Homo sapiens: one gene and its partner. The protein of the gene in region 2 interacts with the protein of the main gene of each other region in a pairwise test. Each region holds a gene or a part of one and is shown on either strand. Other genes may lie near its edges.

Region 1 (16,086 bases), on a different chromosome or scaffold from region 2:
ACGAAAAAGATACTTGCACACGCATGTTTATAGCAGCACAATTTGCAAATGCAAAAATATGGAACCAGCCCAAATGCCCATCAATCAACAAGTGGATAAAGAAAATGTTTTATATATACACCATGGAATACTACTCAGCCATAAAAAGGAATGAGATAATGGCATTCATAGCAACATGGATGGAATTGGAGACTATTATTCTAAGTGAAGTAACTCAGGAATGGAAAACCAAACGTCGTATGTTCTCATTCATGTGGAAGATGAGCTATAAGGACACAAAGGCATAAGAACAACACATTAGACTTTGGGGACTCGGGGGAAAGGATGAGGGGTGATAAGGGATAAAAGACTACACAATGGGTACAGTGTACACTGCTTGGGTGATGGGTGCACCAAAAGCTCAGAAATCACTACTAAATAACTTACTCATGTAACCAAACGCCACCTGTTCTCCAAAAGCCTATTGAAATAAAAAAATATATATATAAAGTTGTAAAAAGAAAATTAAATTAAAAAATAAAAAATAATATTTGGGAGAAAAAATAATTCTGCCACTATATTATTGTTATTCTAAGATAACCACTGTTATCATTCCCACCAGTCTTTTTTTCTTCATATGTTTTACAAAGCTGTGATTACAATGTGCATACATTTTTAAGACCTATTTTTTTTCTTTTTTTTTTTTTTTCTGAGACACAGTCTCACTCTGTCACCCAGGCTGGTGTGCAGTGGCACGATCTCGGCTCTCCGCAACCTCTGCCTCCTGGGTTCAAGCGATTCTCCTGCCTCAGCCTCCCGAGTAGCTGGGATTACAGGTGCCCGCCACCATACCCGGCTAATTTTTGTATTTTTAGTAGAGGCAAGGTTTCACCATGTTGGCCAGGCTGGTCTTGAACTCCTGACCTCAGGTGATCCACCTGCCTCGGCCTCCTAAAGTGCTTGGATTACAGGCATGAGCCACTGCACCCAGCCAAGACCTGCTTTTTTATTGACACACATAAAGTATTTATCTGAAGTTCCCTATAATCCTTATAATCATTATTTAAAATAATAGCATAAGGCTGGGCATGGTGGCACACAACTGTAATCCCAGCACTTTGGGAGGGCAAAGTGGGCTGATTGCTTGAGCCCAGGAGTTAGAGACCAGCCTGGACAACATGGCAAGACCCCATCTCTACAAAAAAAGCCAGGTGTGGTGGTATGTGCCTGTAGTCCCAGCTACTCAGGAGGCTGATGTGGGAGGATTGCTTGACCTTTGGGGAGCAGAGGTTGCAGTGAGCCAAGACCGTGCAACTGCACTCCAGCCTGGGCGACAGAGCAAGACCCTGTCTCATAAGTAAATAATAAATAAATAAATAAAAACAAAAAGCTTTTGCACAGAAGAAAAACAGTAAAACAATAGGATAATATTCTAAGGAGTAGATTCACCATTCCTTTATTGCTAGGCATTCATGTTATTTTAGTTTTTAAAATTTTATAAATAACACTGATAAATACCTTCATGAAAATAGTTTGTTTCCCATATTTAAAAAAAAAATTAGGCCACATTCCCAGAAGTAAGATTACCTGATCAAAGGGCATTAATACACATTGGCTACCAAAATGCTTTCTTCCAAACCACACTCACTAGGAAACTGAGTACCATCTTTTTCAATTCTGTTAAATTTAGGCTTAAAAAGTGGTGGCTCATGCCTGTAATCCCAGCACCTTGGGAGGCCGAGGCAGGCAGATCATGAGGTCAGGAGTTCGAGACCAGCCTGACCAACACGGTGAAACCCCGTCTCTACTAAAAATAAAAAAATTAGCCGGGCATGGTGGCACGCGCCTGTAATCCCAGCTACTCAAGAGGCTGAGGCAGGAGAATCGCTTGAACCCGGGAGGCAGAGGATGCAGTGAGCCGAGATCACACCATTGCACTCCAGCCTGGATGACAGAGCCGAGATTCTGTCTCAAAAAAAAGAGGCTTACCTAATGGTTTTAATTTACATTTCTTTGATTAGTAGTGATGAACATTTTCCAATGTTTTCCAGTTGTCCTTAAACTCCTTTGTAAATTGTCTATTCGTGTTCTTTGTGCAGATTTCTTCTTATACATTATATTGTAGGAGTGGGTTAGATAATACAAGCCTATTACACTTTGTCATATTTATGATACATAGGCTTTTTCAGTCTGTGTTTAGATTTTGAAAATAGCCAAAAAACCTTTTAAAAGTTATTTTGGTTTTAAAATTTTGTACAGTCGGGTTTGATCTTTTCCTTTGTGATTTTAAAAAATTACTTTCTAAGCTTAGAAAATTCTTCCCCTTTAGAAGCTTGATAAATATCCATTCACTCTAGTGTTTAAAATTTGCTTTTTTAAATATTTAACTTTTCAATCTAGCTGTCACTCATTTTAGTTTATTACAGTAGATGAGGGTATAATGGTACAAGCTGTCACAATACCATTCATTTACTCAACAGACCTTTCAACTCCCATTCACTTGCAATGCATCCTTTGTAATAGATTAAATTCTATATAATTGGTCTCTTTGTTGGGGTGGGGGGTGTACTATAACCTATCTGTCTAATTTTTGTACCAGTGTTTTCATTACTGTAGTTTTGGATGCTTAATATCTAATAGTATTAGTCCTTCGTTACTCTTCTTTTGTAGAATATTCTTTGAAAATCATCCTTTTTTAGCTTTCAAATGCAATTATTTGCTGTCTTACTCCTAAGATATAAATTTCTTGCAGGTAGAATTGGTTTATTTCCTTAGAATAGATTGCCAAGAATATTGTTACTGGCCCAACTGGTATGAACATTTTTTCCCATTCTTAACACTTCCAAGGTTTTCAAAAGGGGTTGTATTAATTTCACTGTAATCCTTCTACCACCTGGATATTTTGAAATAAAGAATCTTTTTCAAACTTGGTAGGGGAAACAATATATCTTGCTTCAATTTCTATATCTCTGCTTACTGGTGATGATAAACATACATTTGACATGTAGTAGGTGCCTAATCAATGCTTGTTCAATGAATAAATGGCATGTATGAATCTGTACATATATTTGCAGATGGGAAGTTTAAGCAAATATTGTGATTATAATAGGTAAATGTTGGCTAGATGTAAGTTTGTGGCCTAAATGCCTGTAGTCCATCTACAGAGAGGTTCTAGTTATGCCAAGAACACCTTGGAATTCAGACCTAAACTGGGGCAATCTCTAGAGACTCTGTAATTTATATTTATCACAGGCATGTCCGTTTCCATGCAGGATCAGCTGAAAGATGTCTACAACAGTTAAGGCGATATATGTGGGTATCCCCATGTCTGTGTGCAGCCCAGAAGCAGTCGTGATTGGGTCAAGACAGAGTGTACTTCCTTTGGCAGCAAAACAGTAATAAGAAGCAGAGTACTCCACTGGAAAATGACCCAGGCCCTAGTAGGCCTTCTGCAGTTAATTTAATTGCATAATAAACTGGATGTCATTCATAGAAGCAAGCCTTTTCTATGAAGCCACACTACTTTTCTTCTCAACTTGCCAAGCCCAAGAGGACCTAGAAGTCTTTCGTTCAGAGAAGCTTAGCTTTCTCCTTTCACTCTGCACCTGGGAGGGGAGAGGGTCATTTTTTTTCTCCTAGCAGTCATTGTCTTTATTTTGAATTTAAAAAAAAGGCAGGCGGTGTGCAGTGGCTGTCATGTGTAATGCCAGCACTTTGGGAGGCCAAGGTGGGAGGATCACTTGAGGCCAGGAATTTGAGACCAGCCTGGGCAACATAGCAAGACCTCATCTCTACAAAAAATACAAAAATTATCCAAGCATGGTGGCACGTGCCTGTAGTCCTAGCTACCTAGAAGGCTGAGGTGGGCAGATCCCTTGAACCCAGGAGTTCGAGACTGCAGTGAGCTATGATTGCACCACTGCACTCCAGCCTTGGTGACAGAGAGAGACTCTGTCTCGAAAAAAACAAAACAAGAAAGAAAGAAAGAGGCCAGGTGTGGTGGCACATACCTGTAATGCCAGCACCTTGGGAGGCTGAGGATGGAGGATCCCTTGAGCCCAGGAGTTCAAGATCAGCCTGGGCAACATAGGGAGACATTGTCTTTATTAAAAAACAAAAAACAAAAAACAAACAAACAAACAAACAAAGCAAGAAAAAAGCAAGCAGGCAAGCAAGCAAAAGCTAACAAAAGGCAGCTTGTCTCTGTTTTTAAAACCATGTAAGACTCATTACTAAAACATTGGTTTCCTTTGCTGTGTTGCCCAACTAGTAAATTCTAGCAGTAAACTTTTTCAAGGACTTCCTTGGCCACAAAATCTGTCAATTTGATGGAAAAAATTCTGTTATTATCTTAACCTGCATATGCTGAAGTTGTGCTGTGTTTTATTCTGAAAAACAAAGTGTTGTTTTCTCTTGACCTAAGAGCACCTAAGGTCACGGTTGATTGCATGAACAATTGATTCCTGAGTGAGGCATTGGCAGTTACTACCACAGTGGCTTCATTTCTCTCAGACAGAGGATCGATAAATTCAGAGTTTAAAAAATCCTTCTTCTTCAATGTGGATTAAGTACTACAGAAATATCAAACAAAGTCCCAAATGCTGAAGGAGGGCCCAGCAATCCTTCTCAGACAGACTACTGCAGTTTGACATGTTAACATAAAACTCTAGAAGGTGGCCAGGCGCGGTGGCTCACCCCTGTAATCCCAGCACTTTGGGAGGCCAAGGCAGGCAGATCACCTGAGGTCAGGAGTTTAAGACCAGCCTGGCCAACGTGGTGAAACCCTGTCTCTACAAAAATACAAAAATTAGCTGGGCATGATGGCGGGTGCCTGTAATTCCAGCTACTCAGGAGGCTGAGGCAGGAGAATCACTTGAACTGGGAAGGAGGAGGTTGCAGTAAGCTGAGATCGCGCAACTGCACTCTAGCCTGAACGACAGGGCGAGACTCTGTCTCAAAAACAAACAAACAAATAAACAAACAAACACTCCAAAGGACTTCTCCTCTAACTCCAAGAAGCACCTAGGAAGAGCCTTTTCACAAGCCCTTTGTCTTTGAGAGACATCTACCTCTGGGTTGCTACTTTCATTAGAGGAGCATGAGCCCTCTTCTTGATTCTTCAGCCTTTTGTTTTAAACCTATTAGCGTCAATTTTCCACCTTTTTAAAAATCTGTTTGCCACTTCTTTTAAGAACTAGCTCTAAAATTCACTTCTGCCAAGACTTCCATGATTAATTTCTTTCTACTGATAAGTCTCTTCAGCTCATACATATATTCCATTGGTACCATAACTAATGTTGTTCTCTATTCTAATTTTGTTAATGTTTCTAGACTGTAAGTCCCTCGAAGACAGGGGAATTTCTAGAAAGCCGAAAAGGAATTTAGAGACTGTCTAGTTGTATCCTTTGTTCATTTTATTGATGAAGAAACTGAGGCCTAGGGAGGGTAATCAGTCCAAGTCAGTTAGCCAAGTTAGAAAAACTAGGTGTAGAGCCCAGGTGTCCTGACTTTGAGCAGTGTGCTTTCCACTATATTAGGTAATCTTTTTTCTATTTCACTTGGATTTCTTCAGAATGCCTTGTAAAGTGCCACATACACACACGTCTCTCTGTAAATGTCAATACAATAAGCATAAGAGTTTACATAACTGAGAAACTGACTCAAGGAAAGAGTCAGAAAACAGAAAGGTCATTTTCTTACTTCTTTGCATGATGCCACCCTCCAGACCAGTTAATTGCTACTTTGCACATTCCGTCAATCAGGCATTGGGCAGCTGTGATCGTAGCCCCTCCTATAGCTGCTGCATAGTCAAATATCCCTTCAGTGGCTGGGCAGTCATAACCTTAGGGCAAAAATCAGAAGAGCTGGTTAAAAGGTGAACTGGAAAAAGAGGAGGAATAGGTTGAGGTGTGACAACAACCTAACCTACTAAAAAGCCACTGTGCTAATATCAGCTCCAACTGAGACAGAAACAACTCCAATGTTGGGGATATAATATTTTAAAAGGTTAGAGCTAGAAAGGATAAACCCTCCTGATGAACTAGTCACAGGCTACAGATAGAGAAACCAAGCCTGAGAGGTGATGTGTCTTGTCAGTGGTCACACAGAGCCAGGCTTGGGACCCAGCTCTGTTGACCCCCCAGTTCAATGTTCCTCTGCTAAACCATGCTGTTTTTCTAGACTATCCTGCAGGTCACTTACAGTTTTAAAAAATGCAGCTGTTTAATGAGGGGTGAGGTACAAAAACTTAGCCAGAACATAAATCTGTACTCCAGTTAAAATATAAGGTCACAGGACAGCTAAATCAGCATATACACAGCCAGACCAGATCTGAGCACTGCCAGTAGGGCATAAGCAACTGAAAGGTTTTCTTTCATCTAACCCTTCATGTGGTTTTGCTCAACTCATATGGTTTGCTTGTTTAGTGAGTTATATGTGGCTAAACCAAAAGATTAAGATTGACAGTTAACACATGATTTCTTAACGAAAAATATTAAAAAAATCATACAAGTTATAAAAAAAATTAGTCTGTCCATCTCCCATCACTGCCTGGTAATGACTTTACCTAGCCCATATTCTATGGAGTCCGGATGATCATCATCGCCCTCTTGGCTGACCTTCTGGAGATGCTGCAGATAAGCATCAGTGTGGAAGGTGGCCATCTCCTCCATGGAGGCCACTTTAGGCTTAACTATCCTAATAATAACAGAGAGAACAAAGAGAGGTCAGTGAGTCAGACCCAGCGTATGCCAGAAGCTAGAAACAGAAGCCAGCAGTCTGAGAAGAAAATACGTCTCAACTTCTGGTTCCAATAGGCTGGAGTAATAAACATATTCTGTTCTTCCACTGCACTGTGCGGTCTTCACTGCCTCACATCTACAGTAGTGACTCTATTAATAAGGGGCAAGAAGATAGATTTTCCCTTGAGTTTATAGGTAAGTAAACAAAAGTAATTATATTCAAGTTAAACAAATAATCAGGTATCAGACAGACTTTACCCTGTGAGTTACAACTTTCAGGACAAACTAGTAGGCAGGGATATTTTCATTTGAACCAGTTGCGAATTGGGCTATCTAATCCTTTCAGCTATATCTTTATTTTAATAGGCAGCTATGTTATCATGCATTTTGAATTTGGAGTCAGATTTGGAGTCAGAGAATTGGGTTCCTGTCCTAATTCTGTACTTACTAGCTCTATAACCTCAGATAAGTCAACTGTTCTGTAGTTCAGTTTTCTTATTTGTAAAATGGGGAACTTTATGGGACTTATGTGAAGATAAAAGGATAACACATACAAAAATGCTTGGTGGATAACTATCATTCTATTAACAGATAAAAAATGGGCAACCCAAAATGTAATGTTTCTAGACTTGGACCCTCCTATCTGCCTCTGAGAGCGAGGCGAGAAGGGGCAAAATGGTTGGAACCGGACTTCACTCAGAACCTCTCAACCTACTCCTCACGAAAAATGACAAATAGAAGCGAGTGAGGGAATAAAGGGAGCTAACCCAATAAGAGGCCTTACCACATCTAACCTCTAGCTGCCTATTCCCCATTTCCTCTTCTTGACCCCACAGCTGCCACTACTGTTCTCTAGCCCTTGCCACTTAAAGGGTGGTCCATAGACCAGGAGCATCAGCATTCCCTGGGTGCTTGTTAGAAATGCAGAACTTCAGACTTGCCTCAGACCTGAGTCAGAATTTGTATTTTAACATGATGATTTTTAAACAAGATGACACATTTTAAGGTGATTCATATACACATTCAAGTTGAAGGAGCCCTGACCTGGGCCACAGGGAGGCAGCAGTGGTTTTAAATGTCTGCTGAATGGGAACACAGCCATGAGTTTACGATGAATGAATACGACTATACAGGCTACTACTATCACCAAGGTAGCTGGAAGAAATCCTGTGGTTTGGCCTCAAAAGTGAAATACATAGCCAAGACCCAAGAATTCTTGCTTCTTCTTAAAGAAGACAAATCTATACCACCAGAGGTGAAAAATCTACCCATTAAAATAAAAATTTTGTAATATCTCGGACCGTATTTCCCAGTCCTAAAAGCTCCCTCTTCTAGTACCCTTCCATTTATTTTGGTAAATGTTAAAAAACACTTACTGAAAACCTCCCTATTTAACAGTAAGCAAACTGGACAGTTTTGCTTTGCTTTGATATCTTGTTTGTCATAAAATAATTTTTTGAAATGTTAAATAACTTTAATGGAAGGCATATAGTTACTATGTTAACCAAACCATATGGGTTAAAAAATGGCTTAAAATGGGTGTGGTGACACGTGCCTGTAGTCCCAGCTACTCGGGAGGCTGAGGCAGGAGAATCGCTTGAACCTGGGAGGCGGAGGTTGCAATGAGCCGAGATCGCGCCACTGCACTCCAGCCTGCGCGACAAAGCAAGACTCCATCAAAAAAAAAAAAAAAAGGCTTAAAAATTCCCTTTAAAAGGTACAAAATGATTTTGTTAATAATAAGGATAAAATCTGAAAGCCTATTATTACACTACCTTCTGGGAGATAAATGAAGCATAGCACACTAGTTGGTATGAGCACTCACCTATTTGGCCAGAAATTGTCATAAGTAATCCTATATGTGGCAGGGTTATATTTGCTCTTATAACGACATCAAATACAGAAATGGCAATAAACAGCAAGTTCATGTTTTTGGAAGAAACAGTTAGCTCTCTCTTGAGTTCTGGCGCAGTCTTGGCAGTTTTCTTTGGTCTTTTTTGTTTGTTTGTTTTTTGAGACGGAGTCTCACTCTGTCACCCAGGCTGGGGTGCAGTGGCGCAATCTCGGCTCACTGCAAGCTCCGCCTCTCGGGTTCACACCATTCTCCTGCCTCAGCCTCCCGAGTAGCTGGGACTACAGGCGCCTGCCACCACGCCCGGCTAATTTTTTGTATTTTTAGTAGAGACGGGGTTTCACCGTGTTAGCCAGGATGGTCTTGATCTCCTGAGCTCATGATCCGCCTGCCTCAGCCTCCCAAAGTACTAGGATTACAGGCGTGAGCCACCACGCCCGGCCTTCTTTGGTCTTGATCTGTCTCCAGCCTCACCCATTAAAGTTTGGTGCTGGTGGTGGGTTGTCTAAAAGTCTTAGGTTGAACTCACACCCTCAAATCTGGCTTAGAATGAAACGAAATCAAAAGAAAAATGGAACACCTCCTAGCTGAACACCTTTTTGTATGAGACAGGTTTTAATACCCAAATGTACTCAAAATCTCCACAATGCACTGCACCTACCCCTGGGATACTTAACCAAGCAATCGAGCTGTATTTCTAATGAACCTTAACTGCTTCCTGCACTTTCCACTCCCCTGTCCCAAGTTTTCTTTTCTTTTTCTTTCTTTCTTTCTTTTTTTTTTTTTTTTTTTTTTTTTTTTTTGAGACGGAGTTTCACTCTTGTTGCCCAGGCTGCAGTGCAATGGTGCAATCTCGGCTCACTGCAACCTTCACCTCCGGGGTTCAAGCGATTCTCCTGCCTCAGCCTCCCGAGTAGCTGGGATTACAGGCGCCCGCTACCACGTCCGGCTAATTTTTTTGTATTTTTAGTAGAGACGGGGTTTTGCCATGTTGGGCAGGCTGGTCTCAAATTACTGACCTCAGGCGATCCACCCACCTAGGCCTCCCAAAGTGCTGGGATTACAGGCGTGAGCCATGCTCTCGGCCCCCCAAGTTTTCTTAATTCTTCAAGAGCTTTCTTGGGATTACAGGCAGATTACAAACACTGTGAATACTTTCACAGAAAGCTAAAATAATTTTTTCAAAAGACCATTCTTTTCCTTGCCCCACTGTGAAGCAGGATATTAAGGCTACGAACACCTAGCTTCAGGGCTATGTTCAAGAAAGACAACTTACCTCATCTGCTTATGCAGTGCATATGCTTCAATCAAAGAATGCACCATACTGGCCTAAAAACATCAGCGTAAAAAAAAAAAAAGAAAAGCAGAAATAGTCTCTTTAAAGTTTAATTCAGCAAAATCCCCGTCAATCTCACCATCCTGAACAAAGGAACGGATTAATTTTGTTTCAACTGGCTTCCCTTCTGTTAACAGTTACAATACACTTTAGACAATACAGATACAAAGTATCAAAATCACTAAGGTGAAAGCTACCGGGCCTTAGGCAGGTGATGGAACACCTTCCCCCTGCAGCTTGTTTTCCCACGACTTCAGCGGTCCCCTATGAGTGGAAACTGCGTCCTCTCCCCTCCTCCGTACCCCCTCCCCCACTCCTACCTGTCCATTGGACGTCCCGAAGAGACATGCTGCGCTCTCAGAAACGATATGAGAACACTTCCTTCTGATACAGCTTTAGGTATCTGATACAGCTACTCGAAATTTCTGAAGATTTCCCCCAGCCCAGTGTCCTCTCCGCTTCCTAACGCTCTTTCGTCCACCGCCCCCACCCCCACCCCCAAAGCCCATGGTCTTTCATCCCGACTTCCCTTACCCGTTTGGGGATCTTGGCCAGGGAGTCACACATACTGACATACTCGGGACTATAGATATAAACCGGGACCAGCGACTGCCCACTGTCCGCCGGTTCCTCCGGCTCCTCCATCTTCCGCTTAAAACCGTTCCGCAGCCACCTTCCAGATCTGGCTTTTTTCGGACTCGGCCAGGGTTCCAGTTCCTGCTCCTCTGATCGGCCGCAGCGGTGCTCCCTGGTCAACATTCCCTCCTATTCTTGAGATCGCCGGAGACACTATCACCGCTCCCCATCCTATTGAAGGAATGGATGGGACTTCCCAGACCAGACTCCCCTCATTTAGTGACCACAGTTCAAGGAAAAGGGTTTGGCAGATGTAAAAGTCCAAATAGCTGTCAATTAGGATCGATTGTTTTTATGGCACAAATAAGTAGGGTCAAAACTAACCATCCTTGTTGCCCTACGGGGCCATTTGAGATGAAGTCAGACCAGTTTCACAGCATGCTGGGAGATGTAGTTTCCGGAGGTTTGAGCAACGGAAGAGCCGGGGCTAAACACTAAAATAACCGCGATTTTTAGTTTCAGCGCTAAGACCAAAAAAAAAAAAAAAAAAAAGTAGCCTCAACTCTTTATGAATTGTTTCAATCTGCAAACACATCCATTTCATCCATTTAACCATATAAACACAGATAGAACGTGGCCACCTAGAGCCCCCACCATCCAGCTACATCAGCTGCCTATCCTAAGGATAGGCTTTTTTTTTTTTTTTTTTTTTTTGGTGGGGGCGCTATTTAATGGCACAAATGGTTTGAAAAGTTTACACAGTAAATTCTGTGATGCAATTTTATAGTTCATTTCTTTTCATCATTAACTATCCATGTCCACATGAGAGTTAACAATCTCAATAATTTACTCTGGCAAATCTGATAGTACTTTCCCAAGAGACTGGCTGGTGCAGTGGAAATTGCTTGGTAGATTCCGATCAAGCAATGATGTCAAATGTAACTCCTTGAACATTCATGTGGTAGGAAGGTTGCAAGCAGTGGTGTTTGGAAACTGCAGCTCTTCTCCTCCTACCTCCTCTTGTTTCTGCAGCTAAACATAGATTAGGGAAATATTTTAGGTTTGGTGTGAGGGTCCAGTTTAAGACTATCTGAGGCGGTTTTAGAATTACCATCAGCATTTGGAGGTTCCTGGAGGCCCCTATGATCTGATACAAGCTGGCCAGTGCTCAGGATCTTAATTCTCATGGCAACCTAAACTGACTGACTAACACCACTGGGACAACCTAATATCCTTACTATATTTAAAGTCTGGCTTGCTTTTTAGACTTTAAACATTTATTGAAGATTGTGACATGCACATTGGCCATATTATCTCATTTCATCCTTGCAACAGTCCTATAAAGGAGGTTGCAATACACCCATTTTACAGATGCAGTTTAGAGAAACAACATTCAAAATCACATACTTAACAAGCAGATAAGTAGGAATTCAAAATTAGGTCAGCCTGACACTGAAGCCTTTGAACATTCCCTTTATTATATAAACTTGATTCGTCCAGGATGACTTTGTGTTATGATATAACTTTGTTCACCCTCCATTTTGTATCCCTTCAATACTTATTCTGAAAATCTTGGGGGTGTTTTGGTGATGTGCTCTGTAACTAGAATGTAAGATCTTATGTTTCTTTAATTTATGTCTTCCCATAGTAACTAGTTAAAAGCTCTGCAGTCATTCATTCATCAAACATTTATCTGATATTAAGTGTACAGTACAGCTGAGGATTCAAAGGTAAATTATGATGTGATCTCTGCTCTCAAGGAATTTGCATTCTTTTTTTTTTTTTTTTTTTTTTTGAGACAGAGGAGTCTTGCTCTGTCGCCCAGGCTGGAGTGCCGTGGCGCGATCTCCTCTCGCTGCAAGCTCCGCCTCCCGGGTTCATGCCATTCTCCTGCCTCAGCCTGTCCAAGTAGCTGGGACTACAGGCGCCCGCCACCACGCCCAGCTAATTTTTTTATTTTTAGTAGAGACGGGGTTTCACCGTGGTCTCTATCTCCTGACCTCGTGATCCGCCCGCCTCGGCCTCCCAAAGTGCTGGGATTACAAGTGTGAGCCACCGCGCCCAGCCAGAATTTGCATTCTTATACAGAAGATGGGGCAAGTACACAAGAAACCAAAGGCAATGCAGAGTCAATGAATGTAGGATGCTTAGCCTACTTAATAAATAAGCATTAAGTACTAAATAACTGGCATTTAATAAATGGTAACTAGAATTCATCTTTGATGGCATTTGAGAGGGTCTTAGGAGGTGGGCAAGATTTTGCTTGGTGAAGATGGGAGCCAGGAGAGGGCATGCTGACTAGAATGAACAGCATAAACAGTAACACAAAAGGGAAAATTTCTAGTCGAGTTTAGCTAAAAGGGCCAGATCATGAAGAACATTGAATACCAGGCTAAAGAGAATAGACTACATTCTGTGGGAAATGGGAAAACATATTTAGACAGAAATAGTAAGGAAAAAAGATTTCTATAGCAGCAGTGTGTAGGAAAGATTAGTCATTAAAAGGCTAGGGGCAGTTAGAGTGCCACAATGGTCCAAATAAGAAGTGATAATGATTTTAAACTAGGGTGGGGGCAATGGGAACAAAGGAGAAATAATGTACAGGGTAGGTTCAACAGGACTTTTTTATTACTTGGATATTGGTGAGAGGGAGGAAGATGGAAAAGGGTTGCTGAAAACTCTTAAATGTAAACTCTGGGTAAAGAAAAGACTAGAGGTAGCAATATAAGAAAGAGGGCAATCGGGAGGAAGAACTCATACAGTAGGGCAGAATAGACATAGATTCTGATTTTAAAAGTGTTGAAAAGTGTTTCAGAAATTAGTGGGTTAAACAATTGCAGTGATACACACACACACACTTTTCCATATAAAGAGGAGAAAACTGAAGTCATAAGAGTGGCTGAGCTAGGCAAGGGATGTGGCTTTCTCCACTGGGATGCCTAACAGTCATATCCAACAACATTTTCAAAACCAAGCTCCCAATTTCCCCACCCAAGTTCTTTCCACTCCTTTTCTATCTTTCATAGCTCAGTAAAGATATCAACATCTATCCAGTTGCCTAAGTCAGAAACCTGGGAGTTATTTGTGTTTCTTCCTTTCCTTCACCTGCAGATCCAGTCCATCAGAAATTTCCATTGGTTCTATGTCCAAGACATGCCTTAAATACATTCACTTCTCTCACTCTGTACTGCCACCACTCTAGTCTGGATACTATTATCTCTCACTTAGACTTTCTGCAGTATCAACCTGGGCGTTGCTTCCATTCTTGCTGCCTTACAACCCATTATCTTTGCAGCCACCAGAGTGAACCTCCAAAAAAAAGTAAATCAGATCATGTCACAAAACCTGCCCCAGACTCTGGTGAAGACCTCTGAGCTAGGAAGAAGAGTGTCATTTTTGGAAATGCCTGTGTGTAAGAGTTTAGAGGAGAAAAAGATGTCAGAAAGAAGACAAGGAATGGTCAAAGACCCCTTTTTGTCATTAGAAATTCACTGGTGCCCTATGGAACAAAACAAAACAGGAGGTGGGGAGGAAGCCAGATTGTGGGGGTTTAAGAAGTGAAGCCAACACAGTTAAGTGTAGCTTCCTCTTTGAAAAAATGTGATTGTGAAAGGAAGGAGTTAGTCTAACAGCTTGAGGGGACGTCGGAGCCCAGAAATTTTTTTAAGATAAGAGAAAACTGCACATGTTTATAGACAGGAGAAGCTACAGGAGTTGACTGAAAGGTGAGATCATGATGACGGGCAACATAAGGAGAAATGAGACTTGTTCTGGGCCTTCAGGGATAGGCAGCGGAAAGAGGGCAGGAGATAGACTGGCCAACTGATACCCTAAATTCTGGACTCTTCTTGGATGACATGAAAAGGTATTGTTTCATGTGTCCTTTCTGATCTAGTAACAAATAGCTGAATGGCTCTAAACTGGAAACACTATCCAAGTACCCCATGCAATGTGGCAAGATGATTCAGCTATGGAGAAAGATAAATTGTTGCACAATGCTCTGGAATTGGCAACCTATTCCTGCAGCTAATCTCAAAGGGCGGCTAGACGCTTGCTCATGGTTAAGAAAGAGCACACATCATGCCACAGGTCCCTCACCTCAATTTTCCACATTCGTAACACCCATATGGTTCTTAAACTGGGAAGAAAACCCTTCTCAATGCACTTTATTTGCAGTTGGAGGACTTGAGGTCACAGGAAGTAGGTTGAATCTTGGCTTCAAAGCTTGCTAGGGTGGTGACCCAGGGCAAGTTACTTGACTCACTTTCCTCAATCATTATTGCTAAAAGTAACATTCGAACCGGTAAGTTCAGGTTGGGCTGTGCCATATTTTTTTGGTGCTTTCCCCTGCTTTTCCCCAGAAGGGGAGGCAAACACATTACAAGGGCACCACCCTTCAGTGAATGAGCAGAGTCTTCTCTGCTCATTTCACTATCTGTCCAGTGACACTTCAACTGTCTTCAACTGACCCTTGTCACACCACCCCCTTAATGTCATTTTCCTTGGAGAGTGTCATTGTTGAGAATGTGATCGCTAGCGTCAGACTGCATGGGTTCAACTTCCAGCTCTATCACTTATTAGATGATTGATTTGGGGCAATTTACTTAAACCCTCAGTGCCTCAGGTAGCTTACTTGTAAGATGGCAGTATCTATCTTACATGGCAATTGTGAAGATAAAATGGCTCACGCTAAGTGCCTATATAACAATGGCATTTGGTATGTGCTCAAATATTGGTTATTTAAGAGCCATTATGCCAAATATTTCTATATTTGGTGGGGAAGGGAGTTTCCCCCTACTGTCATCCTTACCCCCATACCACTACTGCACAAGTACTACTAGTGGTTTGAGAATAAGTTCTTGGTTTTTTGGCTTAGCCTTAAAAGAAATCACACATCTGCTAAATATAGGGTGACCATATCTTTCAAACTGAGACATTTTTTGAGAGTGACACAGTGCTATTGATAATTATGCCAGTAAAACAGGCATAAATGGGGGCTGCCCTGGACAAACCAACACCTGAGGTTACTCAAGTTAAAAAGGAAATGAATGTCTACCAAATATAAGAATAAAAATTGATGGCTGTATTTTTTTAAAATTAAATAAATAAAAAGGAAATGAAGACTACATGTGGAAAATAATCTCCACTGCATTAGTGCAGACACTAGGTACTTGGTAAGTAGAAAAAGGAATGGCAGAGGTTTTGCCAGCTGTGGTGAAGAACAACTTTTGCCCCACCAGTTGTGTAAGATTCCCAGAATGTAGTAAAATTTCATTAACCAGGATGGAACTGTAGAGACAATGTTCATCCTTGCTGGATAAATCCTGTTATAGAAAAGGCTAATGAATAGTATAAACAAACAAGATTCTGCCAAATATTTTTAATATTTAGAAAAACAAGTTGTTTTAAAATACCCTTCATTAGGGAAGAAGCACCATTTGTACACAATTGAAAGGCTGAGTAAAAATGTTTTACTCATTCATCAGAAAATGTTCCCTACAGGCCAGGCGCGGTGGCTCACGAGTGTAATCCCAGCACTTTGGGAGGCTGAGGCAGGCGGATCACCTGAGATCAGGAGTTTGAGACCAGACTGGCCAACATGG
Region 2 (15,205 bases):
AAGGGGCCACGCCGGCGCCGCAGGCTGGGGAGCCCAGCCCGGGGTTGGGCGCCAGGGCCCGGGAAGCGGCGTCGCGGGAAGCCGGCTCGGGCCCCGCCCGGCAGTCGCCCGTTGCCATGGAAACTGCATCCACAGGTAAGGCGGGCGCCGCTGCCCCTCAAATGGCGTCGGGGACCAGGGCCCCCCAGTCAGTCCCCTTCTGCGCGGCTCTCCTGGGCACCTGCCTCGCGCTTTCTGCCTTGAGCGCCGACCCCACCCCCGCGTCGCCACGGGCGACTGGGAATATTCGCGGGCTGGTAGAAAACAACAATTTTATTTTTCCCAAAGGCTCAGAAAAAGTCAAGATGCTTTTGATCCTTTTATTTCATTATCATGATTATTTCCGCTTTAAAAATTGTTCTCATAGGCAAACAGCAGCATTCTGGCTGCTGGCGAGTCTGGGTACAAGTTTCTCCCTCCTGCCAGGAGGCTCCGAGCTGTAGGGCCCGTTTGACAGGTTGTGGGGATTTTGGGGGGCGTGTTTGCGCGCAGTGTGCGCGCCGGCTACAGGAGATGCTGACAACCGAGCGGCGGGCAGGCCCGCGGCCCCTGGACCCGGCTCTGTCCAGGGCAGAGATGTGGCTGTAACTGCCCCTTACCCTTGCCCTCCACGAATCGCCACCACACCTTACTCCCCCCACATCCCTCCGCCTTTTCTCCCGCAGAAAACAAATCCCAGGGAGTTTGTCCCTAATTCGGGAGGCACAGCTTTGCAAGAGGGTTGGGTGCTGTGGCTGCCCCCGCCCAAAACCTGTATTTCGCCGCTGCCCGGATGGCCCCACCTTGCAGGGAGCATTGAAACTTCAAGTCCTAAGTGCGGCGGGCCTGGCTGTGGGTTGGAGGGCTTGGGTGGTGGTGAGTGGACGTGGTACAGTTTACCAGCAGTCTAAGCGCCCCCCCCCCCCCACCCCGGAAATTGCCCTGGGTTTGGCCATTCTTCGCCTGACGCCCTATTCAAAGTCTGAGCGCGCCAGTGTCCAGCGGGAGCCCAGGCCCCTGGCGCATCCTGGTCAAAGGATCCAGGAAGCGCGCTTTGAGGCTGCCGGCCTGGTTAACGCTGTTTCCAGGGAGAGGAAAGGGGATGCTGTGTGGTGCTCTTTCCTGAGAAAGCTTTGCTATGGTGGAGTGGGAGTTGTGTAGTTTTGGCAATGTAGAGCTAGAAGGCCTGGGGTGGGGGGTGCTCCCAGAGGAGGGGAAGGGGAGTGGGACTGGTGTGTGTGCTCTTGGTGGTTGATTTAAAGAAACCCCTTTTCGTAAGCTTCTCTTAAGGGTTATGTGGAATGTCTAAGGTAATCGTAATTAACTGCCCTGGTACAGAAGATCTGAGCTGGGGAAAAGAGGTTTGGAGAATGCGTTGAATAAAAATTGTCAATATCCTGAAAGGAAGAGAAAAAGTGGAGACCCTATATAAGAAAAAAGAAAAAGAAAGAAAGAAAAGTACTCAAAAGCCCCAACGCCAAACGCCAAAGGTTATATATTAATTATTATATCCCTAGGAGTGGGGGAGGATTTAAATCTAAGAATGGCTGCTCAGTCTCTCTTTCAACTTCTGCATCCAAGTGAAAACAAAACTCTTTATAATTGCAAAAGAAGATGGCAAATGATAATAGACAAAGGAAGGTAGTTTTTGTCTTTACCATTCTTTGTTGAGGATAGACTGCTCATAGTTCAGAATCTTTATCCACTGTAATCAAAGTAAATTGTTTCTTTATGAAACATTACCCACCTCCTATTAGTGCCACTAAGATTATGTGAACTAGAAAAAGGAAGCTAAGTGCCCCATGCTCAGTAACATATCCACAAAAGTTATTATATAGGAAATGCTTAGAATATATATTTGTGGGGTACAGTGTGATGTTTTGACATATGTCTGCATTGTCAAATGATTAGCTAACAAATCCATCATCTCATGTACTTTTTTTTTGTGGTAAAAGCGTTTAAAATTTACTCTTTTAGCAATTTCAAAATGTACAGTGCATTGTTACAGAAAGGTGGCTGTAGTAAATAACAATGCATTTTGCATTTTTAGTATTATTATTATAGAAATACCTTGCTTTATTGAATGTGTTTGGGGTTTTCTATCCTAGGCAACAAATATAGTAATAAAATCAAACATGATACTACGTTTGGATGGGAGAAGAATGAAGAAAGATGGAAGGAGCACATATTTTGCATATTTATATAGAAATTTTTTAGTTTATGATTGTGGCTAGAAGGAATTTCTGATATAGTTGTTGATTGGTTAATGTCTTAAATCTCTGTGTTTCTTATTAAGTAGACCGGATGTGCTGCTATAAGAGACTCAAACGCCAGAAATGCTGTATAAATAAATAACTAGATCTTAAAATTCCAAACAAATCTTGTCCAGCTTCCTGGTCTGTTATTTTGGCAGTTCTATTGCTATAAGCAAAGTTAGCAGGTGAGCCCTCAATTGTATCAGAGATGCCTATTAAGCACACTACTTTACACTGTATTTCTTAATTTACTTTTTTTTGGCTTATAAACAGAAATTTATTTTCTCACAGTGCTAGAAGCTGAGAAATCTAAGATCAAGGTAGATTTGGTGTCTGGTCAGGGTCTGCTTCCTGGTCCACACACAGCTGTCTTTTCACTGTGTCCCCACATGGCAGAAGAGTGCTTTATTTTTTTAAAAGAGTGGTGCTTTTTTGGGACTCAACTCAAACTAAGAAGTAACTTAGACTTTGAGTGTGATGCACTGTAAACAGATTTTGTTTCTTTTTTAGATGGAAATATAAGACAGATATTGATGTTTTAATAACTGTTTTTCTGAAAAACATCACCAATCATGCCATCTGGACAGATATTCTGTTATTTATTTTTATACATTGATGGTAATTAAAATTATCCCAGGAACATTTCCAAAAATATGTCTCAGCAGTGTCCTGGAATGAATATAAGTTTAAACATTATTAAAACTGCACCATAAAACTCCATCAATCCTCTATTTTCAGGTGTTCTCATTGCTTCTGTCCCTTTTGTGGCGTGGAAATAGTCTCATCAAAATAACACTGTCTTCTAAAGTTACAACTTCATGTCTAAACTGATAATGGACATGTGAAATTATGTGTGTTGACAAGGGAACATTTAATACACCGTAGGTAGGCTACGACATGTTAGCGTTGTTAATCATAAAAGTGCCATCATCTAATAACTTTATACAAAGAATGTTAAGAGCAACTGTTCTGTTTTTTCATGATCAGTTATTTTATTACTGGAAACTATTCAAAAGGAGCATACAATAACAAAAGGAAAAAAGAATGGTCCTTTGTTTAAAGAAAGAATTTTAAATAGAACATCTGAACAAAATGAAATAGAGGTTAACTCATTGCCTGCTTTGGAAATTAACTCATTGACTGCTTAATATATGGAAAGCAAAATCAAGAACATGATGGAGAATGGTCAGGAAAAATCAGTCCAATATGATTTGCTGCAGTGATATCAATTTATAAATAATTTGACTTAAATTTCAAGATAATTACAAAAAGCATTTTCCAATTTACTTTACATGGACCATATTGTTTATATGTCCTCATTTTTCAAATGCTAAATGTGATGCTGTATTGGAAAAACATCTTCTAAATTCCATTTGGAGGCTAGATTAACTGTCTTCACTTTTGGATGTGTTTGACAGATGTGTAGACATTTTTTATTTGGAGTCATTTCCAGGTAATCCCCTTCAGAAGGTATAAATTTCCATCTTCTTTCTTTTGAGAAAGCTACAGTTCTATTGAAATGGTAAGGAACATTACACTGTGCCATTACTATCTTTAAAGAAACATATAAGATGAATAAAAGAGTTTGGAAAACTAATGCAATTTATTTCTGTGGGCATATCCTCTGGATACAATCAATACCATTTCTGGAAGTAAGTACAATATATGTTCTTTAATATAGGGAATTCAAATTAGGTTAAATTAAATTTAGGATGCTTACATACTTTTAAAATACATTGATAAATATTATAAAGGCTTTCAGGTTAACTTTCCCTTCATGAACTTACTGTTCCAAGAAAACCACCCTGCTCATTGCCCTGCTCATAGGCTCTCCTCTCTCCATCTCTTTTTTACTTCTGATTCTGAGGGTTGAGAGAAGCATTATTGGTTATCTTGCCCATTTTATTGTCTATCCCTGGGAGCATGGATTGCAAGGATTACAGAAAGCTTTTATTATCTTTTGTAAAGTGAGAAACCATTGCGGTTCAATTCAACTTAGTAGACTTATGTTAAATGCCTCCTTTGTGTAAGGATCTGTGCTAAACACAGGTCAGTCATGACTTCCTAAAACATGTGCACCTTTCTGATTCACAGTATTTAATTTAGCCAAATAGTTCCTTTTGTGTTATTTTTCATTTTCTTCATTCCCAAGTTATTGCTGGAAGCTTGACTAGAAGGGAATTATAATAATCTAACCCCATGGGCACAAGGGTATGAGTTAGTTTTCTGAGATCAACACAGGATAAGTAAATATGAGCACAGCTTGCTCAGACTGTGAAAGACAAAATCTGTCTTTTTGTCTAGCTGTGAAAAACAAAATCTTTCTCTCCCTTTATTTCTATCATCTATCTCATTCTCTACATCTTCAAAGAAATAACTGGCTAAATGTTACATCAAGATCTTTGGATTAGTTAGTTGTGATTTTATTCAACAATTAGATTATTTCAGTGGTGACTAAGGGAGTTTTGAAAACGATGCTGGAAAATTTAGAGGGCAGTGAAAATAAAAGACATTTCAAGAGACAAACGTATCTACATAGGAATGCTCTAGGCTAAAGTCATTGTAAAGAACATGGTCCAAAAATGAAAGACAACCAGTTTTGTTTGGTTAAATAATATTTGAGGGCAAAGAGAACAGTGAGAAGAGTGTGAGCCAGAGAGGCCCACTGTTTGTGGAAGATGCTGTAGTGATAGGGTATGAGAAAAGGGAGGGAAGGGCTTCTCAATTCTTATTTGAGCTCCCTAATTTAAAATGGACAGTGATTCTTAAGTTGGAAAATTGAAACATACAGAAAGAGATACTGGGATCCCAGGATAAGTAAACAGAAGGTAAAATCTTGTATTACTACTTTGATGAGATCAGTTCTTCACATCCAACTACTTTACATCTCATGGAATTGAATGAGTGTGCTGAGCAGCTTTAAATTCATTCCCAGTATCTTTGGAGAATAAGACTAGGGCTAGAAAAGCTGAAATTGATAAGTGATTTTCAAAAAGGGGAAAATGGTGGATTCTTAAAACTTATAAACCAATATATTTGACACTGACTGCTGGTAGAATCTAAGAATGTGTTATTATGCTAAATATTCATAGACCCTTAGAAAAGAATGAATATATTGTTCAGAAATTCCCTCTAGTTCACTAAAAAATAATGCCTGTACAACATTATTTCCCTCTTTTTCAGATTTTGAATTACCAACATGTATGTAGCCCTTCCTATGTCTAGGAACTCTGCAAAACGCTCAACTGACATAAAGATATAGAAAGCATGCTCTTTAATTTATAAACTGCACAAAATTTCAAAGGATGGCTGATATGCTACAGGGTAGCATTGCGATGAAAAAAATCTTGATTTTAATGTTTATTCAAAAGCAACAAGATAAATCTGTTTATTAAAATTATTTTTGTCCCGATTTAAAAATTGGGGGTGGGTAGAAAATACATACACATGGTATTAAAATCTAAAAGGTACAAAAGGGTAAGTAGAGAAAAGGAAGTCTTCACACCTTACCTTTCAACAATCCATTGCCCCTCTCCAGAGGTAACCATTGTAATTAGTTTTAGCAAGAGAGCATTACTTATGATTATACTACTATTTATTGAACTCTTGCTATATGTCAGGCTTTGTCTAAGCACTGAGGATTATAGTACAGAAAAGGACAGATAAAAGCCTCTCATCCATAAACTATACTTTTTTTTTCTTGGTGGGGGCAAGGGGAGAGAGTAAGGAAGGGCAACAGAGACCAGAACATCTATATCAAGGGATGATTAAGTATTGTGAAAAAGGTCAAAACAGAGTAATGGGAATGAGAGGGATAGTCAAAGAAGACCTCTTTGATAAGGTATCTTTAAAGCACAGACTTGAAGGAAGTGACACAACAGTCTTGCAGATGTCTGAGAGAAGAACATTTTGGGCAGAGGGAATTTCCTTTGCAAAGGCCCTGGGTGGGAGTGTGCCTAGCACATTGAAGGAACCACAGGAAGAGCAGTGAGGTGGAGTAAGCAAGGGGAGAATGATAGGGGATGAGCAAAGGGTCAGCGGTAGAGAGGAGTGGATAGATTAGGTCCTATAGGCCCTTGTAACAGCTTTAAATATTACTCTGAGTGTGATGAGAGCCACAGGAATGGGAGAGGTGTTAAATAGAGAAGGAACATATTTAGAGTTCAGTTTTAAGTTTAATGACTCACTCTAGTCACTGCGTTGAGAATCTAACATGGGGGTGGTGGTGGTTGGTGTGGAGCAAGAGTGACCTACTAGTAGGCCATTGCAATAATCTGAGAAAGAAATCATGGTGGCTTGCACCAGAGTAACAGCATTGGAAGAGGTGAAAAGTGGTTGGATTCTAGATATATTCTGAATGTATGTAATGTGTTAGAAAGAACACAAGGGACATGCCATGATTTTTGGCCTGAGTAAACACAAGAATGAAGTTGTTATTAGCTGGGGTTGGGAAGACTTTAGGAAGAGCAAGTTTTAGGGAAAAAACAGGAGTTTGGTTTTACACATGTTAATTTTTGAATGTCTGTTTGGTGTCCAAGTGGAGATGTCAAGTAAGCAGTGTAGAGTGGGGCTGGGGAGTGATCTGATCTGCTTATATACATTGGGAGTTGTTGGTGTAGAGATGAGATCACCAAGGGAGTGAGTGTTGACAGTGATGAGGTCAAGGAGTCCTGGGTCACTCAAATATACAGAGGTCTTTCAAAGAAAACTGAGTAAAAGTGGGCGACGAAGTAGGAAAACTGAAAGAGACTCCAGAAGAAAAGATAAATATATGTCAAGAGGAATAGAATGATTGATTCCGTCAAATGCTGCTTGTGGTTAAGATAGAGACTGAGAGCCAGCCACTGGATTTGACAATGAGGAAGTCATTCAAAGTGCCGGGAAAAACATCTCGGTTGAAATGGTTTTAGAGCAAATGAGAGGGGAGAAAATAAGAGATGGTATTTGTAGACTTGACTCTTTGGGGGAGTTTTGTTATAAAGGAAACTGAATAAGAGGTAACTGTATGGAGAGTGAGATGAAAAGAAGGGAAAGTATTTTTTTTTTGCTATGGAGAATATTAAGGCATATTTGCAAGATGATGTAAATGATGCAGTAGTCAGGGAAAGATTGGTGTTGCGGGAGGTGGGGGCATTTCCTGAAACTGTGTCTCTGAATGAGTAAGCAGGGATGGATCCAGCACACAGACAAGGGCTGATATTGGATAAAGGTGAGGACAGTTCATGGCTATAATGGAGGAAAGACAGAGGAGAGGGCACACCTGCAGGGAGTGGTTGGAGATGGGGCTGAGAACAGGTGGAAGTTTTCCATTAACTGCTTCTATTTTATCAATGAAATAGGAAGCAGGGTCAACAGAGTGAAGGCAGGAGTGGAATTGTTGAAAGTTTGAGAAGAGGGGAGAAGGTATAAAATTGTCGTTTGGGAAAATGAGAGAGTGAAAGGACTAGGGCAAACTGAGGGAACACTGAGTAGCCCTTGGGGCTCACTTAGAGCTTAAAGTGAGACCAATCACTGTATATGTTATCTTGTTTTTGGTTTAGAGTGCAGGGTTAGTTGGATTGATTTTTGTTTTCCAGTGATCCCAGTGGGAACAGATGGGAAATGGATTTGAGGATATATGCAAGGCAGTATATAGATGCTTGGTCTTGGAATCTGCTGAGGAGGAATGAAGCATAGTAAAAAGATGACATAAGCAGTGGATTGTATATGCTGGCAGGGTTGCTAGAGTAATGGTACTAGAGTAAGGGAGATGAAAGGATAAGAGATGATGATTTGGTAGCTGGGGTGTTTGAGGTAGATAGTAGGAGGGGTACTATTACTGAGAAGCAGTGGAAAACTGAGATGGAGTGGATGACAAGGTCATTGGAGGAGTCCAGAAGAAAGGTGAAAATAGGAGTGAAACAGTCACCTACATGATTACTGACATCACAATGAACCATGACAGATCCTGGGAATTACAGTAAACCAGACGCTAATGGATATCTTTAGGAAGGGACATAATGGCCTAGGATTCTGCCTAGGGGCTTTTAGGGGGAAGGAAGAACAGTGGCCTGTAACATTATAAATGTAAAATGTTGACTATAAGTTCTGAAAATTCTATTTAATATGTATAGAACGTAGGAGATGCAACTTAAAATAGTTCATGGTGGGGGTTGGGAATTTTGTAATTAGCTAAATATGAGCTAGTGGTATGGTGAAATTACTAAAATATCTTATGTAATTTCAGATAGTATTAATAGAAAGTCTCAGGTGCACATTATACGAGGTAATAGCTCCCCTAGATTCTGTTCTAGGCAGGCCAAATTTGGATTCTCATACTAAAGGGTAGGTGCCATGTTTTGAGAGACATTGACGAGCTATAATACGGTGAGAGCAGGGCAATTGGGAGGCTTTTGGAAAACATGCCATTTGAGAGATAGTTAAAGAAATTAAGAATTTTTATCCAAAAGAAAAGAATGAAGATCTGAATGTTAAATACTAGAAGAACTTTCATGAAGCAAAGGAAGAAGACTTGACCCAGCTGATTTCACAGAGCAAAATTAGGACTAGTGATGTGGAGAAGTAGATTTCTTCTGAATGAAAGAAAATGTTCTAATAATTAGAACTGATCAGAAAAGACAGATTCTCTCCCAGTTAGTGATGTTCAAGCAAAAGCCAGGTTGCCATTTTAATGTGGGGAAAGCAGAAAGGAAGTCATTAGTTACACTAAGATGTTTATATCTTCCTAAAAGACAACAGTGCCCCTAACTTGACATTGTTATTGTTACATTATTACTTGTATTAGTCCATTTTCACACTGCTGATTAAGAGATACCCGAGACTGGGCAATTTACAAAGAAAAAGGTTTAATCAACTTACAGTTCCATATGGTTGGAGAGGCCTCACAATCATGGCAGAAGGCAAGGAGGAGCGAGTCATGTCTTACATGGATGGCAGCAGGCAAAGAGAGAGATTGGGCAGGGAAAATCCCCCTTATAATACCATCAGATCTTGTGAGACTTATTCACTATCATGAGAACAGCATGGAAAAGACCTGCCCCATGATTCAATTACCTCCCGCTGGGTTCCTCACATAACACGTGGGAATTCAAGATGAAATTTGGGTGGGGACACAGCCAAACCATATCATTCTGCCCCTGGCCCCTCCCAAATCTCATGTCCTTACATTTCAAAACCAATCATGCCTTCCCAACAGTCCCTCAAAGTCTTAACTCGTTGCAGTATTAACTCAAAATTTTATAGTCCAGTGTCTCATCTGAGACAAGGAAGTCTCTTCTGCCTATAAGCCTGTAAAATCAAAAGCAACTTAGTTACTTCCTAGATACAGTGGGGGTACAGGCATTGGGTAAATATAGCCATTCTAAATGGGAGAAATTGGCCAAAACAAAGGGGCTACAGTCCCCATGCATGTCTGAAATCCAGCAGGGCAGTCAAATCTTAAAGCTTCAAAATGATCTCCTTTGACTCCGTGTCTCACTGATGCAGGAGGTGGGTTCCCATGATCTTGGGCAACCAGGTCACACTGATGCAGGAGGTGGGTTCCCATGGTCTTGGGAAGCTCTGCCCCTGTGGCTTTTCAGGGTACAGCCTCCCTCCTGGCTCTTTTCATAGGCTGGCATTGAGTGCCTGTGGCTTTTCCAGGCACATGGTGCAAGCTGTCGATGGATCTACTGTTCTGGGGTCTGAAGGACAGTGGCCCTCTTCTCACAGCTCCACTATGTGGTACACCAGTAGGGAGTCTGTGTGGGGCTCTGACCCTACATTTCTCTTTTGCACTGCCCTAGCAGAGATTCTCCCTGAGAGCCCCACCCCTGCAGCAAACTTCTGCCTGGACATCCAGGTGCTTGCATACATCCTCTGAAATCTAGGTGGAGGTTCCCAAACCTCAATTCTTGATTTCTGTGAACTTGAAGGCTCAATACCACGTGGAAGCTGCCAAGGCTTGGGGTTTGCACCCTCTGAAGCCAGAGCTTCAGCTTGTCCCCTTTCAGCCATGGCTGGAGTGGCTGAGAAGCAGGGCACCAAGTCCCTAGGCTGCATACAGCACGGGACCCTGGACTCACCCATGAAATAATTTTCTCCTAGGCCTTGGGGCCTGTGATGGGAGGGGCTACTGTGAAGACCTCTGACATGCCCTGGAGACATTTTCCCCTTTGTCTTGGGGATTCACATTTGGCTCCTTGTTACTTATGCAAATCTCTGCTGCTGACTTGAATTTGTCCTCAGAAAATTGGGTTTTCTATCACATTATTAGGCTACAAATTTTCCGAACTTTTATGCTCTGTTTCCCTTATGAAACTGACTGCCTTTAACAGCACCCTAGTCACATCTTGAATGCTTTGCTGCTTAGAAGTTTCTTCTGCCAGATACCGTAAATCATCTCTCTCAAGTTTGAAGTTCCACAAATCTCTAGGGCAAGGGCAAAATGTTGCCGTCTCTTTGCTAAAGCATAACAAGAGTTACCTTTGCTCCAGTTCCCAGCAAGTTCCTCATTTCCATCTGAGACCAGCTCATTCTGGACCTTATTGTCCATATTGCTATCAGGCTTTTGGTCAAAGCCGTTTAACAAGTCTCTAGGCAGTTCCAAACTTTCCCACATTTTTCTGTCTTCTTCTGAGTCCTCCAAACTGTTCCAACCTCTGCCTCTTACCCACTTCCAAAGTTGTGTCTTTTCAGTATCTTTTCATGTTTTCCAGTATCTTTTCAGCAGCACCCCACTTTACTGGTATCAATTTACTATATTAGTCAGCTTTCATAATGCTGATAAAGACATACCTGAGACTGGGCAATTTACAAAAGAAAGAGGTTTAATGGACTTACAGTTCCATATGGCTGGAGAAGCCTCACAATCATGGTGGAAAGCAAGGAGGAGCAAGTCATGTCTTACATGGATGGCAGTAGGCAAAAAGAGAGATTGGGCAGGGAAACTCCCTTTTATAAAACCATCAGATCTCGCTATCACGAGAACAGGATGGGAAAGACCTGCCCCATGATTCAATTACCTCCCACTGGGTCTGTCCCACAACACGTGGGAATTCAAGATGAGATTTGGGTGGGGACACAGTCAAGCCATATCATTATTTTAAAATTATTCCATATTTCTCAAAAAATAAACCACATACTAATGAAACTGGAAACTGTGTGCATCACAAAAACCATAGTTACCCCAAATTGACTACTTAAAATGTGCTCTTCACAGACTTGTGGCCTTTTAAAAATCCTCCTCTAGTTCTCCCTTGTCAAGAAAAGTCCATAATGTGACATATTTGCTTCTTAAGAACTATATAATTTTATCCAGTTTTGGATTATTAACATAAATATAAAATATGTTATCTGCAAGTATCTCTTTTATTCTTTTTGCTGAATTATCTTCTTCATTTTTTACTGAATCTAGTTTCATAAATATTCAACATATTTTAAAATGTTTTGGAAATTCATTAAATAATTTTGTAATGCTAAAAGCATCATACGATCCTTTCCTTCTTTCTCTGCCTCACTATCTGTATATTTATGGAAGATTATTCATTGGAAAACTATGTTTCCTGGGTTGCTTAATGAATTAAATTTTTAGCTGGAAGAATTCTCCATTCTAATTTCCGTGTCCAATCCCCAAATGCCTTTTCTAATTCATCTATTGCATGAGATTTTTTGTAAAATCTGTTATAGACCAAATTCTTGCTTTCTGAGTTTGGAAAATTTGTTGACGCTCACATTCTCCAAAATTCCTAGAATTTTGTTTTATGCATAGCAAATCTTTGGCTTTCTAAAAAAAAAAAAAACTACTCTTGAACAACAGAAAATTATGTGTATTTGAATGATTCCTGATCTAGTTGACAAGCAAAGGAATAGAAAACAATGTCATGTCTGCCTTTGGCATGAATTTTTCAGCTCACTCTGAAAAAATCAGGGCTTCTCAAAATATGGTCTATAAACTACCTGCTCCAACATCACATGGAGTGACCACAGACCTCATCCTAGGGAAGCAAGCCTACCAGGTGCATGTTAAAGCTGTAAGAAGCACTGATTTATTGGCTTTCCTGCTCATGCTTGGCATTTTGTAGGAGACGTGGGGAATAGAGGAGCATGAGCCATGTACCCTTTCCCCATTTCCTCCTGGGCGTATTACCATCCAGTTGGGAGATATGGCCAACTCCCACAAAGCAAAGATGAATAACTCAGGTCAGCATGCAGCTTGTTGCTTGGATGGATGGTACAAGCTATATGTGTGACACGAATTTCATGACTGTATGGGTTCCAATGTACCTGGTCTCTTGAAGGATGGATAGAATTGGAAGGGGGCAGAAGTGAGCAGAAAGGCAGTCTGAGTATGGGGATGATGACAAGGAAGTGAGCAATGATGAGCCTAGTTTCATAGCTTATCCAGATGAGGAGAAGGAAGATTCTGGAGGGCTTGAGGGCTACTCAGAACTCTAGTCTCCTTTCTTATGGATTCTGGGATCTTTGCAGGCTTATATGTAAGGGAAGTAATATCACAGAGCTATGTTAAGGAAGATTAGTCTGACAGTAGAATAGAAGATGAATTCAATGAGGATAATTCTAAAACCTGCGAGTTTTGCTGGAAGAAAGCCAACCCAGTAACATCAATTTCAGGGCCTCTAATAAGTAACCATGGGAATAAAGAGGGAGGTACATGGGAAGAAAGATGAGAGGCTTCACAAGAACAGTCAACAGGACTTTGTGACTAACACACATTATCTGGGGACGAGGGGAGGAATAAATAAAAAATGGCTGCAGTTTTGTGCCCTATGGCTGGGAGAATGTTATGCTATAGAGGGTGGGAGGGGGAACTGGCTAGAGGAGAGAGGATAATGAATTCACTTTTAGTCATATGAGGCTTGAAATAATGACAAGCCATTTGAATGGAAATTTCTACTTGGCAACTGTAGATAAAGAAATGGATTTTGTAGGTGACAACAGGATTGTTGATATGGATTTAGAAAATTAGAAGAGAAGCCATAGAGATTATGTAGTATGGAAAGGACAGAGGACCAGGGACAGAGCAAATACTCCTTGCCCCTCATTAAAAAAGCTTAAAGCTTTAGCTTTAAGCTCCCTGAGCCTCAGATTCTATAGTTAGGTATATATGGTATTAGGTCTTGTGGAGTGCCTGGCAATCATATGGTAAATACAGGTACTCCTATTATTATAGTATCACAAAAGCCAAGATGACGTGGTACAGAATGAGCCCTGACTGAGAGATCAGATTTATCTAGTCTTGGCTTTGGTACCTAATATCATGTCAATGTGGGCAAGACATATGACTGCTTTATGTATCAGTTTCTTCATATATGACATTGCATGAGCACAGTACTGTTCTGGCTATCTTACAGGGTTATGTGAAGATAAAATGGGATAACACAAGAAGATGCATGGAAATGGCAGATAACTCTGTATCTATAAGGTACTATTAATAGGAAGCCTGGTCAGTAGCGTCAGATGCCATAGAGAATGAAGATTGAGAATGAACCTCAACCTTAGATGTTTTACTATAAAATGCTTGCTGTGCCAAGCTGGACCTCAGCCAAATAGCAATGGGGAAGCTCAGGAGAGCAAGGAAGGATTGGGGGTGGAGAGAAGTCGGTTTTGGTAATCCACATGGGAAGACATTTTGGAGGAGGGCAGTAGGAGTGGTGATCTGCTGCGTTTCCCATGTCCTGATGAGTGATCTGTGAGTACAGGGCTGAGGTGTGCCCGTGGGGACCAGCTGGAATGAGGGAGGACAGCAGATGGAATCTATTCTGATTCTCCTATTCAGTGGAAGGGCAATAAGCCTAGGAAGCTGTCCCAGGTATGTGTGGGAGTTGGTCTGGAAGAGGCTGCTTCTCTTACCAGAGAAGGCAGCACAGCGAAAGCTAGCTCCTGCTACCCGCCAGTACAGGGCTAAATCAACTGGCCCTGTGGGCTTGTGGGAATCTGCAGGCTAGTCTTATAACTCAGTAGATTAAAGTCTTATATAAAAACATGATTGCTCTAGAAAGATGGAGTCTCTATCCCTTCTGCTAAATACAGCTAAAAATCCTGGACATTGCATATAAAATAAATAGAAAGGGACTCTGAAAGGTGAATGAAGAGAAGAAGACAGTCTTACTAGAGATCATGGGACCTGTGGAAGGACACAGCAGTGAGTTCTCGGGGTTTTCTGTTTTCATCCTATATCTCAGGCTGGATACTGGAGAAGCCAACAAGCAGGAAATGCCAATGGGCACAGACAAAAAACACCCACAAAAAAAGCCTGCTGTTTCTAGCGAAAGGACCAGAAAACGGCATCCTAGCAGGATAGAAAACTTTTAGACAGTAATCACTGTATCCAGCCAAACACCATGAAATAAACTGAGGTCCCACCTCCATGCCCACCACAAAAGCCAAGGAGGGAGCCTAGACTTCCACCTTTCTGAGGATGTAAGAGACACCCAGCACTAGTAAGGCTTTGGCACTTAATTCACCTGCCAGCTAATGTGGTGTTAGAGGAAGCCTAGAGGAGAGTCAGGAGTTTCATCACTGCTCAGTGATGAGACTGAGTGGAAAACCTGGACTTCTATTTAAGCAATATATATAGTCTCAAGACATAATACCAAAACTGTCCAGATTTTAATGGAAAATTACAAGAACCAGTAGGATATGAACTTGAATGACAAAAGACAATCGACACCATATTAACACAGATGGTAGAATTATCTGAGAAGGATTTTAATGTAGCCATCACAAAAATTATTCAACAAACAATTACAAACACACTTGAAATAAATAATAAAATAGAGAGTCCCCAGCAAAGAAATAGAAAGTCCCAGCAAAGAAAAAGAAAGTCTCACCAAAGAAATAAAAGCTATAAAGAACTAAATGGAAATTTTAGAAGAAACACAGTAATCGAGATAATTTTTATAAAAGCCTCAGTAGGTGGGCTCGACAGCAGA

What was found.
Region 1: the proteins of RTN1 (region 2) and HDAC8 come close enough for resonance energy transfer, tested with the Homo sapiens proteins (one study listed by BioGRID).

The regions. Positions count from the first base shown.
Region 1 is NC_000023.11:72,562,210-72,578,295, forward strand, and holds the start of HDAC8 (histone deacetylase 8), read right to left. Parts: upstream 10,635-16,086; 5' UTR 10,553-10,634; coding exon 10,442-10,552; intron 9,901-10,441; coding exon 9,848-9,900; intron 6,676-9,847; coding exon 6,545-6,675; intron 5,822-6,544; coding exon 5,680-5,821; coding exon of another isoform or gene 5,676-5,679; exon of another isoform or gene 5,588-5,675; coding exon of another isoform or gene 5,548-5,587; exon of another isoform or gene 5,373-5,547; intron 1-5,372. UniProt on the Homo sapiens protein: Histone deacetylase that catalyzes the deacetylation of lysine residues on the N-terminal part of the core histones (H2A, H2B, H3 and H4).
Region 2 is NC_000014.9:59,855,320-59,870,524, reverse strand, and holds part of RTN1 (reticulon-1), read left to right. Parts: coding exon 1-135; intron 136-15,205. UniProt on the Homo sapiens protein: Inhibits amyloid precursor protein processing, probably by blocking BACE1 activity.